Regions from separate parts of the Homo sapiens genome. Here region 2 is linked to region 1. The links come from fine-mapping of genetic effects on gene expression. Tissue or cell type: thyroid. Region 1 holds a variant in brackets; the other region holds the start of a gene. All regions are shown on one strand. Distances are from middle to middle.

Region 1 (5,150 bases):
TGTCCACCCTCCCTCTCATCTCCTGATCCTCCCACCCCATCCTGCTCGGGGAAGTACTCAATGTCCACCCTCCCTCTCATCTCCTGAATCCTCCCACCCCATCCTGCTGGGGGAAGTACTCAATGTCCACCCTCCCTCTCATCTCCTGAATCCTCCCACCCCATCCTGCTGGGGGAAGTACTCAATGCCCACCCTCCCCCAGAAAACTGCGCCGTGTCCCCACTGTGCCCCAAATGCATTTTGCTTTTCAGGTTCCTGCCTCACTGCGGGGCGGGGTTTCCTTGTACTTTGGAATAGCTGTTCTCCCTTCACAAGCATGAGACAATCCAGAGGGCAGAAATTCTTTCTTCCCTCAATACCAGTATCCGACTGCCTGACCAGCATTTTGTCTCTAAGGAGTGATAACGGGGGTAAGAGAAAAAAAAAAATCTAAGTCCTAGTGGATTAGCTTTTTAGAGGAAGAGTATAGAAGAGTATCCCAGGAGACTCCTCTCGGTCCCAGGGGATTCATGCCATCCAGCTGCTCCTCTGAGAGGCTCCACCCCTAAACCTCACCTTGTCTTCTGGGAGAAGAGGACCCAACAGCTGACATTCACTATTTATGACACTCCAAGAGACAGGGCCAGTGTGGGCACATTAGGTCATCCTCAAACAGTTTTGAACCCAGGACCCAGAAAAGACAGGAGGGTGGCTGAGGACACAACACCACGTGAAGGTTCCAAAGGGAAACCTCCATCCAAAGACGTTTGTGAGTGTGCCTAGGGAAGACAAAAGGAGGAGAGGTACAAAGAATTTTTTATAGTGGACTAGATCAGGTGATTATTCTCTGTTTTCACAAGGAATGTTCAGAAACAGCTCCTCACTGCTCAGTGAAAACATGATAAACAATTACAATACTGCATCTGGTTCAAATGCACAATAAAGAACAAATAATAATGTTGTAAATTGGAAAGGGGAAGTTGGAGTTTGAGAGTACGAGGAAGAAACTGGAAATTCAGAATTTTACTGCAAGTTCTAGAAGAGTTAGGCTGGGGAATACGGTCATGGATTTGAGACCCTGCTTGCCTTACATTTGGAAAATGCAGGGGAAACCAGTACCCTTGTGGAAATAATTAAATAGGAAGAAATTAGACTGAAGTTGTAGCAGGACAAGCTGCAGACAAAACCCCTCAGACACCGAGTTAAAGAAGGAAGGGCTTCATTCTGCCGGAAGCTTTGGCAAGACTCACGTCTCCAAAAAACCGAGCTCCCCAAGTGAGCAATTCCTGTCTCTTTTAAGGGCTTACAGCTCTAAGGGGGTCCGCGTGAGAGGGTCGTGATCGATTGAGCAAGCAGGGGGTACGTGACTGGGGGCTGCATGCACCGGCAATCAGAACGGAACAGAACAGGACAGGGATTTTCACAGTGCTTTTCCATACAATGTCTGGAATCTATAGATAACACAACCGGTCAGGTCAAGGGTCAATCTGTAACCAGGCCCAGGACGCGGCGCCGGGCTGTCTGCCTGTGGATTTCATTTCTGCCTTTTAGTTTTTACTTCTTCTTTCTTTGGAGGCAGAAATTGGGCATAAGACAATATGAGGGGTGGTCTCCTCCCTTAAGTGATGATGGTGCCCTGAGTTCCTCACCAAGAAAACCTAAAGGTACTTCATGCCTTTCTTGTAATTAACTTGAAGGGAAAGAAAACTTAACCCCAAATCAGCAATTTACCTCTGATTACATAACCAGGAACCATCCACCTAAATAATCCGAATAACAGAACTACATAATTATAACCAATCAGTTATTAAATTGGGGTTGCTTTGGGCTGGGCGGGGTAATCCCAGCACTTCGGGAGGTTGAGACCAGAAGTTCAAGACCAGCCTGGGCAACACAGGGAGACCCCCCCCCCGCCCCACCCGATCATTAAAATAAAAAATAAATAAATTTGGTTTGTTTCCTTACACACTTTACAGAAGCCTTTCCATCAAGACCGTCCGGTGGCCCACAAACCAAAAACCGTGGCTGGGTGCTCCCCTACTCATGAATCGCTGTTTGCTCAAACTCTGTAACGCTTTAATTAAACCTCAGTTTAATTTTTAACAGGATTAAGGAGGGACTGGAAACGCCAGTGGCCACAGCTCCTCGCAGGCGCGAGCCCGCACACCGCGCTGGGCCTCTCCCCTGAGGCGCCTCGGGTCTCACTGCAGGATCCCGAGGAGCCGCGGGGCTGCGGGCGCGGGCCGGGGAGGGAAGCTGCTTCGGGCAGGACGGAAGTCGCGGTGCAGAGACGGGACCGGAGCCCGGGGTGCCGCTGCCCGCCCAGCTCTGCCGGGCGCCAGAAAGGACCGAGGGCCGCGCCGCGCCGCGCCAGCAGGGACCCGGGTCCGCCCTCGGGAGCCGACCGCTGGGAGCCCGGGGCCCGGGGCCGCCACAGCCCCTTCCCTTCTCCAGACCCCCGGCGGCGCAACTCACCATTTCCCAGCTTCCGGGGTGTCCCGACATCCTCCCTGCGAATCCCCCAGTACATGCAGGTCACAGGAGGGCCCCGGCTGCGGCAGAGCCTCCTGAACCGCCGAGAGTGAAGGAGAAGCGCAGGGCTACTGACCGAGACACGCACGTGCGGGCACGAGAGACAAAGGCCGGGCACACCCGGAAGCCGCCTCGGGTTTTCTAGCGGAGCGCCGGATTAGGCAGTCCCCGCCCCGGTGCCCCTGATTGGGTAGGGCCTCAGGCCCCGCCCCCTCAGACTCTTAGTGACAGGTGACAGCTCCCGCGCGTGTCTGAATGAGGCAGCGTTCTGGCTACAGCTCTTCTCCAAGAGGGTTTCCTCTCTGGGTTGGGACCCAGCCTTGCCTAGGGGACATTCATTTATATACACTTAACCTTGTATACAATGTTACATTCATTTGTGAATAATATATATGATATTTAAAATAGGGTACAATATAATAATAATTTTTGTATCTTTAGTAGAGACGGGTTTCACCATGTTGGTCAGGCTGGTCTCGAACTTCTGACCTCATGATCCGCCCACCTCAGCCTCCCAAAGTGCTGGAATTATAGGTGTGAGCCACTGTGCCTGGACTATT[A/TTA]CATTTTCTAGAATTTTATATGAATACAATTGTACAATATTTACTTTTTTTCCCCAGTGAAAATAGCTTTTATTCAAATGTCCTTACTTTTATCTGGATTATTTTACTTGGACTAATTAATATGAGATCCAGCCACATTGCTGCATGTAGTTTAAATGGGTGAATTCTATGCTGTTTGAATCCTCTCTCAATAAAGTTGTTACCAAAAACTCAATGAGATACCACTGCATTCCCAGTAGGATGACTAAAATGAAATAAATAAACAGATGGCTGGGTGCGGTGGCGCCTTTAATCGGCGCCGGCGCCGATCACGAGGTCAGGAGTTGGAGACCAGCCTGGCGAATGTGGTGAAACCCCGTCTCTACTAAAAATGCAAAATTTAGCCGGGTGTGATGGCAGACGCCTGTAATCCCAGCTACTCAGGATGCTGAGGCAGGAGAATCCCTTGAAACGGGAAGGCAGAGGTTGCAGTCAGTGGAGATCTCCAGCCTGGGCGAAAGAGGAAACTCTGCCTCAAAAAAAAAAAAAAAAAAAAAAAAAAAAAAAAGACAAAAACAGGTGTCGGTGAAGATACGGAGAAATTGGAACCCTCACACCCTGCTGGTGGGATTGCATAATGGCGCAGCCACTCTGGAAAACAGTCTGGCAACCCCTCTAAAATTCAAACATAGAGGTACCATTTGACCCAAAAACTCCACCCCCAGGTACAGATACACAAGAGAAATTAAAACATCCACAAAAAAGCTAGTACACAAATGTTCACAGCAGCAGCATTCGTAACAGCCAATGTGTGAAAAAGTCTCCAGTGTCCGTCAGAGGATAAAATGTGGTCTATCCTTGCAATGAAATCTTATTCACCCATAAGAAGGAATGAAGGCCGGGCGCTGTGGCTCATGCCTGTAATCCCAGCACTTTGGGAGGCGTAGGCAGGTGGATCACTTGAGCCCAGGAGTTGCCAGCCTGGGAAACATGATGAGAGCTCGTCTGTACTAAAAATGCAAAAAAATAAAAAAATAGCCGGGCATGGCGGTGTGTGCCTGTAGTCCCAGCTATTGGGAGGCTGAGGTGGGAGGATCACCTGAGCCTGGGGAGGTCGAGGATGCAGTAAGCCATGATCACACCACTGCACTGCAGCCTGGGTGACAGAGCGAGACCCTGTCTCTAAAACAAAAGGAATGAAATGCTGATACATACTACAACATGAATGAACCTTGAAAGTATTTGGCTAAGTAAAAGAAGCCACATACACACACACACAAACCCCACATATTGCGTGATTTTATTTTTATATGAAATGTCCAGAATTGGCAAATAGAGACAGAAAGTAGATTAGTAGATTAGACAGAAAGTTGCATAGGCTGGGGGGAAAGGAGTTGGCTGCTACAGGATGCAGAATTTCTTTATGGGGTGATCATCTCAAATTGACTGTGATGATGGTTGGGCAACTCTGTGGATGTACTAAAAGCCACAGAATCAGAGCCGGGCGTGGTGGCTCACGCCTGTAATCCCAGCACTTTGGGAAGCCGCGGCGGGTAGATCACAAGGTCAGGAGTTTAAGACCATCCTGGCCAACATGGTGAAACGCTGTCTCTACTAAAAATACAAAATTAGCCACATGTGGTGGCCTGCACCTGTAATCCCAGCTACGCAGGAGACTTAGGCAGGAGAATCGCTTGAACCTGGGAGGTGGAGGTTGCAGTGAGCCAAGATCACACCTTTGCACTCCAGCCTGGGCGACAGAGCGAGACTCTGTCTCAAAAAAAAAAAAAGCCACAAAATCATTCATTTTAAATGGCTAAATTTTACGTGTGTGATCCCAATAAAGCTATTAACAAAAAATGGCTCACGTAGGCCGGGCGCAGTGGCTCACGCCTGTAATCCCAGCACTTTGGGAGGCCGAGGCGGGCGGATCATGAGGTCAGGAGATCAAGACCATCCTGGCTAACACGGTGAAACCCCGTCTCTACTAAAAATACAAAAAATTAGCCGGGCGTGGTGGCGGGTGCCTGTAGTCCCAGCTAAAAGCACATCACAAAGGGCATAAATACAGGAAGGGATGAAGAGTTGCTGCCATTTTTG
Region 2 (5,150 bases), 45 kb before region 1:
CTTTGTTGAAAATCATAAATAGCCTACAAACAACAAAAAGGGATGAATAGGATTTGCGTTCATGTGGAGTGCGTCATCTGTGCTTTTAAATTTATCCTATGAAAAGAAATAAAAAATATGTAATATCGAACATTGGTTTCCTAAATTAGCAAATCGACCATTTCCTCAAGTTATTCCACGTTCTTCCAAGATGTGTCAGAAGCATTCTCTGGAGGCAGTTGTTCCAAATGGTGAAGAGTACTAGATGGATCCCAATCTCACAGGATTCTTGCTTCTATTGCAGAAGAGTTACTTTCCAGGACTTCAAAGGTTTAGAGAAGCTGCTTGATTCGTGTGGCTTGCAGAGGTGCATGGGCTTTGGAGTCACGAAAAGTTAATCCTGGTCCCAGCCCAGCCTCTTAGTAGCTGTGAGGCTTTGCACAACTTCCTTGTCTTGGAAAGTTATATAAACCTCATCTGCAAGAAAAGGCATGATACTGATTGCAAAAATGGCAGCAACTCTTCATCCCTTCCTGTATTTATGCCCTTTGTGATGTGCTTTTATAGCTGCTTTCATTGAGAGGCAGAATCTGTTTCCCAAACCTTGAATCTCACTGGCCTTATTTGCTCTGGCAGTAGAAAGCTGTGAATATGACCATGTGCCAGTTTGGGGCCGAGGCACAAAAGCTCTTGAATGCTTCTGCTTTTTATTTCACAACCCTGTCATCTCCATAATAACAAGTCCATGTTAGCCTGCTAGAGGATGAGATACTATAGGGAGGAAAACCAAAGTGCCACAGTTGACAGGCAGCTCACCCTCAGAAGCAGCATTGCCTAGTCAACCAGCAGCTGACCACACGTGCCTGAAAGGGCCCAGCAGAGACCAGAAGAATGGCTCACTTGAGCCCAGCCTAGAAGGTGGACCAGCTCAATCTAATACGTTTTGGGGAATTTTACTGTGAAGCAATAGGTAATACGTACACCTAGTGCAGACAGGATGCCAGGATTCAATGACATGTTGATTGCAATTTACCAGGCAAACACAAGGCACCCTGTATGTACTGATTTCCTTTTCCCTTTATGTAAAGTTGGATTTCTGGTTAGACGGTGTTGAGCCATACAGAAGTGCACGTAGACATGCATGTGATTTGTGCTTAAACTCACACACTTAAATTCCACACCACAGGAGGAAACAGAAAACCACAGCCTGACCATTAGGGCCAAAGCCAAATTGCAAAATGAGAAGTTTGTCTTTAATGTATTCCCTCTACATCTAAAGTCCTGAGGTTAAGGCTGTGGACAAATCTGAAGACATGGGTTTTCTTCTCCTGGGGCCCCTCATCTTTTTTTCACTGTCTTATCTATAGAAGAGGCTGGGCCCCTGGCAAGAGCAGGTGGGAAATAGTAGACTCCCTCTAGATACTTCTTTATTGCAGCCCACTTCTCTCTCTGGGCACTGTCTCTGCCACCCTTGGGCCTGAGGAGAGATGTTAGCAGAAGGAGGGCATTCCCTCACCTCTAGCAGAAAAGAGGGGTTCGGGCCCTTCACTCCCTGAGGTCAGGGGAACCAGAGCCCTCAAAACTGCACTTCAGTGTGACAGTCATTGCCCACAGGGGTCTACTTAGCACCTAGAATGTGGCTGGTCTGAATCGGTACATGCTGGAAGTTTAAAACGCAGAGTGACTTTGAAAGATTTAGTACCAAAAAACAGAACAACAAAAAATACTTCATTAATATTATATTTATCATATATTTAAATTATAATATTTTGTATATATTGAGTTAAATAAAGTATTGCAATCAATTTTACCTGTTTATTCCTCGTTTCTGTTGCTACTAGAAATTTTAAAATGACACCTGTGGCTCACATGTGATTTCTGTGGAAATCGCAGCCTTGGAGGATTGCTTCCCTTTTCAAAACTCGGGCTCCTCAGACTGCTTCCTCAGAAGACCAGAGGCCATGAAGGTTAATAAGTCTGAAATTTTAAAAGAATTATTATTATATTGTTTCCTATTTTAAATATCATATATATTATTCACAAATGAATGTAACATTGTATACAAGGTTAAGTGTATATAAATGAATGTCCCCTAGGCAAGGCTGGGTCCCAACCCAGAGAGGAAACCCTCTTGGAGAAGAGCTGTAGCCAGAACGCTGCCTCATTCAGACACGCGCGGGAGCTGTCACCTGTCACTAAGAGTCTGAGGGGGCGGGGCCTGAGGCCCTACCCAATCAGGGGCACCGGGGCGGGGACTGCCTAATCCGGCGCTCCGCTAGAAAACCCGAGGCGGCTTCCGGGTGTGCCCGGCCTTTGTCTCTCGTGCCCGCACGTGCGTGTCTCGGTCAGTAGCCCTGCGCTTCTCCTTCACTCTCGGCGGTTCAGGAGGCTCTGCCGCAGCCGGGGCCCTCCTGTGACCTGCATGTACTGGGGGATTCGCAGGGAGGATGTCGGGACACCCCGGAAGCTGGGAAATGGTGAGTTGCGCCGCCGGGGGTCTGGAGAAGGGAAGGGGCTGTGGCGGCCCCGGGCCCCGGGCTCCCAGCGGTCGGCTCCCGAGGGCGGACCCGGGTCCCTGCTGGCGCGGCGCGGCGCGGCCCTCGGTCCTTTCTGGCGCCCGGCAGAGCTGGGCGGGCAGCGGCACCCCGGGCTCCGGTCCCGTCTCTGCACCGCGACTTCCGTCCTGCCCGAAGCAGCTTCCCTCCCCGGCCCGCGCCCGCAGCCCCGCGGCTCCTCGGGATCCTGCAGTGAGACCCGAGGCGCCTCAGGGGAGAGGCCCAGCGCGGTGTGCGGGCTCGCGCCTGCGAGGAGCTGTGGCCACTGGCGTTTCCAGTCCCTCCTTAATCCTGTTAAAAATTAAACTGAGGTTTAATTAAAGCGTTACAGAGTTTGAGCAAACAGCGATTCATGAGTAGGGGAGCACCCAGCCACGGTTTTTGGTTTGTGGGCCACCGGACGGTCTTGATGGAAAGGCTTCTGTAAAGTGTGTAAGGAAACAAACCAAATTTATTTATTTTTTATTTTAATGATCGGGTGGGGCGGGGGGGGGGTCTCCCTGTGTTGCCCAGGCTGGTCTTGAACTTCTGGTCTCAACCTCCCGAAGTGCTGGGATTACCCCGCCCAGCCCAAAGCAACCCCAATTTAATAACTGATTGGTTATAATTATGTAGTTCTGTTATTCGGATTATTTAGGTGGATGGTTCCTGGTTATGTAATCAGAGGTAAATTGCTGATTTGGGGTTAAGTTTTCTTTCCCTTCAAGTTAATTACAAGAAAGGCATGAAGTACCTTTAGGTTTTCTTGGTGAGGAACTCAGGGCACCATCATCACTTAAGGGAGGAGACCACCCCTCATATTGTCTTATGCCCAATTTCTGCCTCCAAAGAAAGAAGAAGTAAAAACTAAAAGGCAGAAATGAAATCCACAGGCAGACAGCCCGGCGCCGCGTCCTGGGCCTGGTTACAGATTGACCCTTGACCTGACCGGTTGTGTTATCTATAGATTCCAGACATTGTATGGAAAAGCACTGTGAAAATCCCTGTCCTGTTCTGTTCCGTTCTGATTGCCGGTGCATGCAGCCCCCAGTTATGTACCCCCTGCTTGGTCAATCGATCACGACCCTCTCACGTGGACCCCCTTAGAGTTGTAAGCCCTTAAAAGGGACAGGAATTGCTCACTTGGGGAGCTGGGTTTTTGGAGACGTGAGTCTTGCCAAAGCTTCCGGCAGAATGAAGCCCTTCCTTCTTTAACTCGGTGTCTGAGGGGTTTTGTCTGCAGCTTGCCCTGCTACAACTTCAGTCTAATTTCTTCCTATTTAATTATTTCCACAAGGGTACTGGTTTCCCCTGCATTTCCCAAATGTAAGGCAAGCAGGGTCTCAAATCCATGACCGTATTCCCCAGCCTAACTTCTAGAACTTGCAGTAAAATTCTAAATTTCCAGTTTCTTCCTCATACTCTCAAACTCCAACTTCACCTCTCCAATTTACAACATTATTAATTATTTGTTCTTTATTGTGCATTTGAACCAGATGCAGTAATGTAATTGTTTATCATGTTTTCACTGAGCAGTGAGGAGCTGTTTCTGAACATTCCTTGTGAAAACAGAGAATAATCACCTGATCTAGTCCACTATAAAAAATTCTTTGTACCTCTCCTCCTTTTGTCTTCCCTAGGCACACTCACAAACGTCTTTGGATGGAGGTTTCCCTTTGGAACCTTCACGTGGTGTTGTGTCCTCAGCCACCCTCCTGTCTTTTCTGGGTCCTGGGTTCAAAACTGTTTGAGGATGACCTAATGTGCCCACACTGGCCCTGTCTCTTGGAGTGTCATAAATAGTGAATGTCAGCTGTTGGGTCCTCTTCTCCCAGAAGACAAGGTGAGGTTTAGGGGTGGAGCCTCTCAGAGGAGCAGCTGGATGGCATGAATCCCCTGGGACCGAGAGGAGTCTCCTGGGATACTCTTCTATACTCTTCCTCTAAAAAGCTAATCCACTAGGACTTAGATTTTTTTTTCTTCTCTTACCCCCGTTATCACTCCTTAGAGACAAAATGCTGGTCAGGCAGTCGGATACTGGTATTGAGGGAAGAAAGAATTTCTGCCCTCTGGATTGTCTCATGCTTGTGAAGGGAGAACAGCTATTCCAAAGTACAAGGAAACCCCGCCCCGCAGTGAGGCAGGAACCTGAAAAGCAAAATGCATTTGGGGCACAGTGGGGACACGGCACAGGTTTCTGGGGGAGGGTGGGCATTGAGTACTTCCCTGAGCAGGATGGGGTGGGAGGACACAGTGGGGACACTGGGAGAGACACTGGTGTCATCCAATCCAATGCTGGTATTTTGAGGGAGAGACAGAAATGATTCCTGCCCTCTGGATTCTTTCACACTTGTGAAGGGAGAAAAACAACCTTAAAGAACAAGAAAATTTCTTCCCAGGAAGATGACACAAAAACCTGCCAAGCAAACTGCACCTTAGGCACACAGTGGGCCACAGTGCATTGCGCTGGGAGGTTGGTCCTTGAGTACGTGGTCTCTCCAATGAGGAGACCGGGGACCAGGGAATCTCCTGCTTGAGAGATGGTCTTACTTGACATGTGAGTCAAACATATCTGTGTTCCAGTTAGCGCTGCTCCTCCCTGGGCTGTCCTCTTGCAAAGCTTTGTTCATTTATTGG

Evidence for each region. PIP is the estimated chance that this variant, and not a neighbour inherited with it, causes the effect.
Region 2: it holds the start of ZNF124, and the variant in region 1 is fine-mapped to the expression of ZNF124 in thyroid (GTEx, PIP above 0.99). The same link has a PIP of 0.9 or more in tibial artery, tibial nerve and visceral fat.

The regions. Positions count from the first base shown.
Region 1 is chr1:247,123,899-247,129,048 of GRCh38, reverse strand. It overlaps a transcript of ZNF124 not described here. Among named protein-coding and RNA genes, the nearest start is that of LINC02897, 14 kb to the right of the region's middle. The variant A/TTA (reference allele first, on the strand shown) is at 3,072.
Region 2 is chr1:247,169,154-247,174,303 of GRCh38, reverse strand. It overlaps ZNF124 (zinc finger protein 124), which reads left to right and starts at 2,284. Exons shown (of 4, transcript NM_001297568.2): 1 at 2,284-2,456. The coding sequence starts at 2,427.